Linked DNA regions of Homo sapiens: region 1 is linked to region 2. Evidence: fine-mapped expression QTL. A gene starts in region 2. The other region holds a variant in brackets. All regions are shown on one strand. Distances are from middle to middle.

The links.
Region 1: its variant is fine-mapped to the expression of EDEM2 in whole blood (TOPMed, PIP above 0.99).

Annotation. Positions count from the first base shown.
Region 1 is chr20:35,013,831-35,019,207 of GRCh38, reverse strand. It overlaps TRPC4AP (transient receptor potential cation channel subfamily C member 4 associated protein), which reads left to right. Exons shown (of 19, transcript NM_015638.3): 10 at 3,069-3,200. Among named protein-coding and RNA genes, the nearest start is that of MIR499B, 26 kb to the right of the region's middle. RefSeq lists a silencer at 915-1,115. The variant A/G (reference allele first, on the strand shown) is at 2,969.
Region 2 is chr20:35,144,929-35,150,305 of GRCh38, reverse strand. It overlaps EDEM2 (ER degradation enhancing alpha-mannosidase like protein 2), which reads left to right and starts at 2,970. Exons shown (of 11, transcript NM_018217.3): 1 at 2,970-3,154; 2 at 3,371-3,481; 3 at 5,288-5,327. The coding sequence starts at 3,048. MMP24-AS1-EDEM2 (MMP24-AS1-EDEM2 readthrough) reads left to right here. Exons shown (of 15, transcript NM_001355008.2): 6 at 3,371-3,481; 7 at 5,288-5,327. The coding sequence starts at 3,387. RefSeq lists enhancers at 2,807-2,936, 3,185-3,788.

The DNA.
Region 1 (5,377 bases), 130 kb after region 2:
CGTGAGGATCTGGATTCCCAGATCCTGCCTACACTGGGTAGCAAGGGGAAGGGTTTCCTTGGCCAGGCCTCACAGAAGGCTTCCTCCTTAAAGAGGCCTCCTCGTTAATGAGCAGTTGGGCCAAGTTCTCAGACCAATCTTGGCCAAATTGAAATCTCAGGACTGGAAAGGCTCCCCATGTGCTGTCAAGTTTCATCCCTCTGGTGCTAATGAAAACCATCCATATAGCAGTCGTTTCTTTTAGTGCCCCCTGAGTAGCTTCTACAGTACCTCACTGAGCCTTTTCAACAGCTCCATCGTCCCCCATCGCCTTTTCTATCAAGGGACTTGGGTTCAAAGAATGTTGCCCAGGGTCACAGAGCTATCTTGTGAACCCAGGGCTGTCTGACTGCAGAGATAAATGCCTGAGCCTGTACCCGCTGCCTCCTCTGGTAGAGTGGCACTTCATCTCGCCCACCTGCCTACCATCCTGCTATAGAGCAGGCTACGGGGCTGGACCTGAGAGTAGGAATAATGCATTCTACAAGTAAAATTTGTTTTACAAATTTTACACATGAAGAAGCTGCTATTTTCTTTCTTTCTTTTTTTTTTTTTTTTTTTTTTCTTTTTTTGAGACAGTCTTGCTCTGCCACCCAGGCTGGAGTGGTGCAGTGACATGACCTCGGCTCACTGCAACCTCTGCCTCCCCAGCTCAAGCGATCCTCTTGCCTCAGCCCTCCAAGTAGCTGGGGTTATAGGCACACACCACCACACCCAGCTAATTTTTGTATTTTTAGTAGAGACAGGGTTTCATCATGTTGGCCAGGATGGTCTGAAACTCCTGGCCTCAAGTGATCCGCCCGCCTTGGCCTCCCAAAGTGCTGGGATTAACAGGCGTGAGCCACCATGCCCGGCCGAGAAGCTGGTATTGTTAAGAGAAAAGGGAAATGATGTAGTAGAAACCTCAAACCTAAGCACTGGCCTGAACTTAGGAGACCCAGGGTCAGGTCCAAGTCTGCCTTAGAAGGCCCCTCTCTTCCCAGCTGTGTGACTCACCCCTAATCTCTTAAGCTTGGGTTTCTAGTCTGTGCAGTGAGGCAATTGCACTGGATGAATTTTTTTGGGCCATTGTTGGAACATTTTATAGCTGTGTGACCTGGGCCTGGCTTAGGGCCCTTTGGAGTGAGACAGGAAGGCACATGGCTTGGTGAACACCATAGATGTCAGCCGTACCTCCCCACCCCCAGTTAAGCAGGGCAAGGTAGATCCAGGCTGGGTTTTAGTAAAGGCCTGAGTGGCAGAACAGGTGTCATTTTACATCAGCCTCAGTCTAACAGATTCTGGGCTGCTTATGAGTCTTAACACTGGCCAGAGGCTGTGATTTCTAGTAGGAAGAGAATAGTCACCTCTATTACTTTCAGTGGCAAAAATCGCAATTACTTTTACACAACCTAATATGTTGAAGGAAGAGGTCCATGGAAATGGAGGCTGCCAGGGATGTCTTTGTCAGCTTCTGGTCTCCCAAGATAAATGCATACCTGTAGTGGGCTAGAAAGGGGCAGACTTAAGATCTGAACACCTGAGTTAGGTGCCGTTGCAATCACTGACCTTACCCAGGCTGGTCTTGCTGAACTTCTCCCCCTTGTAAAATAGCAATAAGCGAGCACTGGTGCTGTGTGCAGAGCTTTACATCTGCTTTCTGACTCGATCCTTACAACAGCCCCGAGAAGGGCTAGTAATAGCCTTATGTTATATAAACAAATTTTAACAGGGAAATCATTCCTGCAGTTCTGTTTTAAAAGATATAAATTAGTATAAGTGAAGCCTCTCTCCCCTCTGATCCTTGACATTCTATTCTAATGGTTCCATGAAGCAGCTAATTTTACCAGTTATTAGTGTATCCTTCTAGAGACATTTTTATGCTTACAAAGGCGAATTGTATTCCTCTTTTTTTACACAATCAGTAATACAGCATGAGCACACTTGCTTTCCCAGTATTATCTCTCGGCAATTGTTCAGTTCACGACATATAAAATACCTTGATTCTTTTTTACTGGTGCCTTGTATCCCATTGAGTGGCATACCATAATTTATTTTGGGGTATTACAAATAATGCTATAGTGAGTAGTGTTGTAAATATATATCATTTAGTGTTTATATGGATCTGTCTGAGTGTAAATTCCTAAAGTGGAATTGCTGGTTTAAAGGGATTATGGATTTGCAATTTTAGAGCTACTGCCAAACACTCTTCCCTGTGCAGGTCATACCAGTGTGCCCTCCCACCAACAGCGTGTGAATGTACCCAATGCCCAAGTCACCAACACGGTCTTATAAAGCTTTGTCATCTTTCCCAGTCTGAAAAAGTGAAAAATCAGAGACATTTGTAGGACTCCTTATAGAGGAATTTCTTTGCCTGTGGCATGAATTGCCAATGTATGTTCTCTGTTTGTCATATTTGGCTTGTGACTTTGCTTGAGTTTTGCCATACAGAATTTTTAAAGGTTTAGGTGGTTGATGTCAACAAGCTTCTTTTTGAGCTTCTAGGTTTATTATAATCCTTCAGAAAGGCTTTTCCAACTCTTAGATCATTTTTTTTTCTTTGCAGAGATTTTTCTAGATCTTAGAGTTTTTTAATAATTGTATCTTACTTTCAGCTGAAATTTATCCTAGTGCAAAGCATGAGGAACATTTTGATGTTAATACGAGGAGACAAATCTTAAGGAATTTGTTTAAGGTTACAAAGTTTGCACATGGTAAAGCTAAGAGTCAAACCCAGGACTCTTGCATCCCAAAGGACTCTTGAATCATATGCAGGACTCTCTGAATCCCAAACTCATGCTTCTGTGATAGGAACTACCGGACATTATGCCTTGTAGGATTATTGTGAGCATTAATGAGCAAAGTTAGAAAGTGGGTTTGTGTGTGCTGGGCATAGGGGATACACGGATGTTTTCTTCAGACCCTGGCCCTCCTTACTGACAGTACTGAT[A/G]CTTGTCCTGAATATCATTATCGTGTGTACTGAGCACGAGGTTTTGCTAGATTTTTCAAGCACATTTGTCTTAATACTTTTTCCTTCCTATCCCATTCAGGTTCACAGAATGATTGCAGAGTTCAAGCTGATCCCTGGACTTAATAATTTGTTTGACAAACTGATTTGGAGGAAGCATTCAGCATCTGCCCTTGTCCTCCATGGTCACAACCAGAACTGTGACTGTAGCCCGGTAAGCAGGAGACCCCCGGGGACAGATGGGGCCTCACTGGCTTGGAGTAGTTGTTTCAAGACCTGCTGCTGACCCTTTGACCTTTTTTCCTTTGGGAGTAGAGCAGAAACTAAAATCATATCTTATAGTCCCCTAATTGGAAGCTACCTTGGAGTAGGATCTGAGTGAACTCCACTCCCCACCCCAACCTATGCAGAAATCCCTTTTAAGATCTTCCTAGGCTGGGCACAGTGACTCAGGCCTGTAATCCCAGCACTTTGGGAGGCCGAGCGGGCAGATCACTTGAGGTCAAGAGTTACAGACCAGCCTGGCCAACATGGTGAAACCCTGTCTCACTAGTGTGAGAGACACTTGCGTCTCTCACTAAAAATACAAAAATTGGCCAGGTATGGTGTTGGGTGCCTGTAATCCCAACTCTTCGGGAGGCTGAGGCACCAGAATTGCTTGAACCCAGGAGGCAGAGGTTGCAGTGAGCTGAGATCACGCCACTGGACTCCAGCCTGCGTAACAAAGTGAGACTGTGTCTCAAAAAAAAAAAAAAAAAAAGTTCCTGCCTGAGGCCCTCTAGCCAACTTCCCCTTGTAATCTCTGTGATAGGGATCTCATTTCACTCCAGGCAGGGGCTGCCCACTGCATGAGCTAGCAGCCTGCTTTTCCTTATTTGCTGTTTTATCCTATTGTAATTTTCATCCACCTATAGAACCGTGCTCCCGGGCGTGGTGGTCACACCCGTAATCCCAGCAGTTTGAAAGGCCAAGGCGGGCAGATCACTTGAGGTCAGGAGTTCGAGACCAGCCTGGCCAACATGGTGAAACCCCGTCTCTACTAAAAATACAAAAATTAGCCAGGCATGTTGGTGGGGCACCTGTAATCCCTGCTACTCAGGAGGCTGAGGTGGGAGAATCACTTGAACCCGGGAGGTAGAGGTTGCAGTGAACTAAGATCAAGCCACTGCACATCCGGCCTGGGTGACAGAGCAAAGACACTGTCTCATACAAAAAAAGGTGGCTTTGGTTTTTTGAGCCCAAGCACTCTCCTTTAGCTTGTGTCTCTCACAGTCCCCTTGAGAGAGCTCTGAACAGGACATTGGAAGGCTTGTTGGAAGAGCTTGAATGAATCACTGAATCTCTGAGCCTCTGTTTTCTTGCAAAAGAAGGATAATACTCTTTCCCCTATTGGCCCCCCGGCTAGTCGGCACCCTGCCTACCAGCATGAGAAGGAAAGTGCTCTGGGACCTAAAAGTGCCACCCAGCCATCGGCCTGGTGCCATGGGGCCCTCTTCTCTTCACTGCACTCTGGGGACTTCCCTCAGCGACCTGTCTTCTGCTTTATCATTTGAGTTTTTAATTTCAAGCAAATATATTTTGCATTTCTAGATGTTCTGTCTGGCTCAATTCGGAAACTGCTTAGCCATGATGTTAATATCTTTTTTCTGCTGCATATTCTGTTTTTAATCATTTTTAAAATACTTTCTTAAGGTCTCTTTCGATTGCTCATGGGGCACTAATGCTTGTGTTTGGGTCTTCAGACCTCAGGGTGGAGTGTTGCCTCGTGTTTTGTAATGTCTGTGGAGCGGCCACCAGAATTGCTTGAACCCAGGAGGCAGAGGTTGCAGTGAGCTGAGATCACGCCACTGCACTCCAGCCTGGGCAACAGAGTGAGACTGTGTCTCAAAAAAAAAAAAAAAAAAAAATTCTGCCTGAGGCCCTCTAGCCACTTCCCCTTGTAATCTCTGTGATGGGGATCTCATTTCACTCCAGGCAGGGAGGGGGCTGCCCACTGCATGAGCTAGCAGCCTGCTTTTCCTTATTTGCTGTTTTATCCTATTGTAATTTTCATCCACCTATAGAAACGTGCTCCCGGGCATGGTGGCTCACACCCGTAATCCCAGCACTTTGAGAGGCCAAGGCGGGCAGATCACTTGAGGTCAGTGGGGTTAGTTTCCCCCTTGGATACCTGTGTAGCCTCAGCCCTGGAGGCATTTCTACAGGGCACTTTTGCTTTTGTCTGGCAGCTGTCCCAGGGCCAGTTTTCTTATTTAATGTCTTGGCCCTACTGCCCCAGTCGTATGAGCCCAGGGTTTCTGCTGCTCTTGGGAGGGCCCCCTTCACCCACCAGCAGCACCATGGCAGAGCCAGGCTCCCTGGGCTGGTGGGTCAGGCCTTTCTAACCCTTCT
Region 2 (5,377 bases):
TGAGTGTTTCAATCTTGCTCATAAAGAGAGACCTATCGTTACCAAATCCAGGCAACCTGAACCCACCCTTCCTGCAAAAGTTTTATCCACACTAGAATTTTGAATGGGAGACAAAAAGATAAGCTATAGGATTTATAATATGGAGAAGGTGAATTTCGTCACAGGGAAAGGCCCAGGTCTGAAAAATATTTAGTCCCTGCGCTAGGCTGGAAACAGCCACCTAAAGTCCAGGTCCTAATCTCTGGAAACTGTAAATGTTTCTCTATTTGGAAAAATGGTGTTTTTTTTTTTTTTTCCCCCTAGATGTGATTAAGTTAAAAATCTTGGAATGGGAGTTTATCCTGTATTATCTGGGTTGGGGGGGGCGCGGGGGGGGTCCTAAATGCAATTATAAATGTCCTTATAAGAGAAAAGCAGAAGGAGATGTGACACATCCACAGAGAAGGCGATATGAAGGCACGGGCAGATACTGGAGTGATACAACCATAAGCCAAGGAATGCCAGCAGTCAGGAGAATCTAGAGAGGCAAGGAACGGATTATCCCTTAGAGCCTTTGGAGTGGGTGTGGCCCTGTCAATAACTTAATTTTAGCCCAGTGAAATTGATTTCAGGCTCCTGACCTCCCAAACTGCGAGAGAATAAATTTCTGTTGCTTTAAGCCACTTGGTTTGTGGTAATTTGTTGCAGGAATCACAGGAAACGAATACAGTGCTCCTGTGTTGTTATCCAGGTCTCAGCTTACTGTCATCTCCTTTCCCTTCCATTTGGAAGCCCCAAGAAGAGTTTCTTTTTTTTTTTTTTTTTTGAGACAGAGTATCGCTCTGTCTCCCAGGCTGGAGTGCAGTGGCCTGATCTTGATCTTGGCTCACTACAACCTCCACCTCCCGGGTTCAAGCGATTCTCCTGCCTCAGCCTCCTGAGTAGCTGGGACTACAGGCGTCTGCCACCACTCCCGGCCAATTTTTGTATTTTTAGTAGAGACAGGGTTTCACCATATTGGCCAGGTTGGTCTTGAACTCCTGACCTCGTGATCCGCCCGCCTTGGCCTCCCAAAGTGCTGGGATTACAGGCGTGAGCCACTGCACCCGGCCAAGAAGAGTTTCTAAAAACATCCCAGGCTGGGTACAGTGGCTTATGCCTGTAATCCCAGCACTTTGGGAGGCCTGGCTGCACTCTGGCTCAACAAACTGAGCTATCACTTCCATCTGACTTTTTCAGCAAATAAGAGATAGCCAATCCTAGAATCATAGAAAGCTCGACCGAAAAGGATCTTAAAGATCCATTTGTTCAAACTCCTCATTATTTATAGACAAGGATGCTAGCCCCAGAGAAGGAGAGGGTCACATACACAGGTTATAGATGAGTGACAGAGTTGTAATTAACTGGATCCTAGATCTGACTTCAAATCCAGTGTTGGTTCTACCGCATGTCACACTGACCAAAGTCATGGGTGTTGCTGTGGTCTAAGGTGCTGACCAAATTTTAGAAACTTGGGAATAAGGGGAATGGAGAAATGGATCACAAACCTCCTGAAAGCTATAGTGCCCCAGGGTAGTCATTTGTCTTTTTTTTTTTTTTTTTTTTTTTTTTTTTGATATGGAGTTTTGCTGTTTTGCCCAGGCTGGAGTGGAGTGGCGCGATCCTCGCTCACTGCAACCTCCGCCTTCCGGTTTCAAGCGATTCTCCGGCCTCAGCCTTCCGAGTAGCCGGGATTTACAGGCACCCGCCACCACCCCTGGCTAATTTTTGTATTTTTAGTAAAGACGGGGTTTCACCATGTTGGCCAGGTTGGTCTCTATCTCTTAACCTCAGGTGATCCACGCACCTCAACCTCCCAAAGTGTTGGGATTACAGGCGTGAGCCACCGCGCCCAACCAGGGTATTCATTCTTACCCAAGACATTCTACAGGGCTGACAGGGGTAAAGCTTCCGGTTTGAGATGGAGACTGAAGGGACCATGATTGTGTAACCACATCCCAAATTGGGAGGAGAGAAGTGTCATGAATTCCTAGAACTGACGGGATTTCAGGAAACCTCAAGAGTGACAGCATCGGAAAATGCAAGAGGTTTTAAAAAAAAAAGAGTGGAAGTTTTGGACAAATAAATGTGAGTTGTGTCTTATACAATCAACAAGTAACTGGTTTGGGAAACTCAATATCCCTAAATAAGGGAGCAGACCACCCCTCATATTGTCTTATGCCCAATTTCTGCCTCAAAGAAAATGTAGGAGTTAAAAGAAAGACAGAAGTGAAATCAGTAGTCAGACAGCCCGGCGATGCATTCCAGGCCTGGTAATTAAAGATCGACCCCTCCTGACCTAACCGGTTATATTATCTATAGATTCCAGACATTGTATGGAAAAGCATTGTGAAAATCCCTGTCCTGTTCTGTTCCGTTCTGATTACCGGTGCACCGGTAATCAGTCACGTACCCCCTGCTTGCTCAATCAATCACGACCCTCTCACGCGGACCCCCTTAGAGTTGTAAGCTCTTAAAAGGGACAGGAATTGCTCACTCGGGGAGCTCCGTTTTTGAGAAGTGAGTCAGCTGACGCTCCCGGCCGAATAAAGCTCCTTCCTTCTTTAACCCGGTGTCTGAGGAGTTTTGTCTGCGGCTTGTCCTGCTAGGTAATAATGGTAAAGGCTGAACATTTCTCATGCTTACCCTGCCTTCATACTTAATAAGGTTGTTGAAAAAAATGAATGAGAGAATGCATTTTAAATGCTCCGTACAGTACTAGTACACAATAAGTGCTCAATACATGCTAGCTGTTATTATTAAAACATTAATTAATAACAGTAGTAACAACAGCCACTGACTTTAAGACACGTTGATCAGTGTTGCCGAAACCGTACATCCGAAGTTGCTCTTCGGCCGCGTTTCGCTGCCCATTGCATTCAGGGGCTTGTAGTCCGGAAGTGAGAGGCTGATTTCTCAGCGCGCAGGCGCAGTGGCGCGGATTCCCGGAAGAACCCGCAGCAGCTCCCAGGATGAACTGGTTGCAGTGGCTGCTGCTGCTGCGGGGGCGCTGAGAGGACACGAGCTCTATGCCTTTCCGGCTGCTCATCCCGCTCGGCCTCCTGTGCGCGCTGCTGCCTCAGCACCATGGTGCGCCAGGTCCCGACGGCTCCGCGCCAGATCCCGCCCACTACAGGTGAACTGTGACCCGCCCTTTCGCAGTTGGGGAATGGGAAGCGTGAACCCGGTCCTTTCCCTTTCCGTCCATCCCAGACCCCGACTTGCTCCGACACAGCCGCTAGGTCCCAGGGAGAAATCAGCTAGTGATTCCCACTTTCCGCCCTGTATCTTGTTCTTCCCCCGCTTGTTTTTGTGTTCTTGCCCCATGCCTGATTTCTCGTCCCCCACCCAGGGAGCGAGTCAAGGCCATGTTCTACCACGCCTACGACAGCTACCTGGAGAATGCCTTTCCCTTCGATGAGCTGCGACCTCTCACCTGTGACGGGCACGACACCTGGGGCAGGTAGTGCGAGCGGAGGGGCAAGGGGCGGCCAGGGTCTGACTCTCTGGGCCTCGGCGGGCGGGTCAGCTGGGGCTGGTGGCTTCATGGTCTCCTCACCGGCACCAGAAAGCTCCCAGCTGAGCTAGAGCCGCGCTCCCCGCAATTCTTACTATCACCTCCAGGATCCACTTAGCCTCTCGCAGTGAAAAAAAAAGTCCTGGATTAGCCGGGTGGGCTGGATCGCTGAGCTCAGCCCCAGCAGTAACAGGCATCAGCTGTGGGGACATAGGCAATTTCTGGAGTAACGAGATACCGTGGAAGGGCTCCAAGAATTAGAAAACCCACCCCTTTCATTATGTAGGTGGGCATTCAGATCCAGGAAGGAGTGTGACACTCCTAAAACTTAAGTCTTTGTAGTTGGTGTGCCCCGTGCCTGAAATACACTCCCCATTTTCCTCCCATCACTGGCTGCTGCTTGTCATTCAGATCTCAGCTCAGTATCTTAATACCCCTACGAGTTAGGTGCCATTATCCCTGTTTTACACACGAATGTGCTAAGGTCGGGAGAAATTAAACTCAAAACTTGTGATGGTTTTTATTTTTTTAAGTTGAAACAAAGTAAATACAAATGGCAAATTCAAGTGGTAAAAGATTATATACAATAAATATCTCCCATACCCTAGAATTCCAACTATTAACTTTCCTTTGTATCTGTCCAGAAATATTCTTGGTTTATACCATTATATATATAGATGTGTGTATGTGTATCTTTTTAAAATGAACTTCTTAAAGGCATAATTTACATATAATAAAATACACTCTTTTTTTTTTTTTTTTTTTTTTGAGATGGAGTTTCGCTCTTGTTACCCAGGCTGGAGTGCAATGGCGTGATCTTGGCTCACTTCAAACTCCGCCTCCTGGCTTCAAGCGATTCTCCTGCCTCAGCCTCCCAAGTAGTTGGGATTACAGGAGCCCACCACCACACCCGGCTAATTTTTTTGTGGAGACGGGGTTTTGTCATTTGGCCAGGCTGGTCTTGAACTCCTGACCTCAGGTGATCCACCCACCTAGGCCTCCCAAAGTGCTGGCGGATTACAGGCATGAGCCACTGTGCCCAGCCTACACTCGTTTGAAGTGACCACCATCACAGTCAAGATATGAAACACTTCTGTCACTTTAAAAAGTTCCCTTGTGGCCCTTTATAGTTCATCCCTGCACCACCACTGACCCTAACAATTGCTGTCTGCTTTCTGTCAGCATGTCTTTTTGAAACAGATGGAAACATACTAAACCACCCTGACTTTTTCATTAAAAACAATTCGAATGTCTTTCCATCAGCACATAGAAGTCTTGATAACAATCTTTTTGATAACTCATAGTTTTGCACTGTTTATAACACAGTTTAATCACCCATTAATGGGTGGACAGTTGGGTTCTTTCCAGCCTCTTGCTGTTCTAAGCAATACTGCCATGAACACTCTCAAACAGCTGTTCACTGTGAATTAAATTCCTAGAGGTGAAAATTGGTGAAAGGCCTGTGCTTTAAGCTGCAATCTTATACTGCCTCCCAATGGTAGAGGAGAATGCCAGACTATAGGTGATGTATTTAATTACAATTGAGCTACATCAGCCAACCCTCCCAGGTGCATTAAGTGGGTCAGAGAATACCTGCGATTTTCACTGTGGTTTCTCTGTTGTGACTGTAAGTGGGACAGGCAGAGGCATTACTTTGCCTCATTTAGTTTTAGGGGGATCAGATCTAGGGCAGCCATAATATCTGGTATTTGATTTTCTTACTAAGCGGCTGGGATTTCTGTCCTTTTGCAGTTTTTCTCTGACTCTAATTGATGCACTGGACACCTTGCTGGTAAGTATCTCGTCTGTTTCTTTTCCTTTCCACTGTTACATAACCAACAT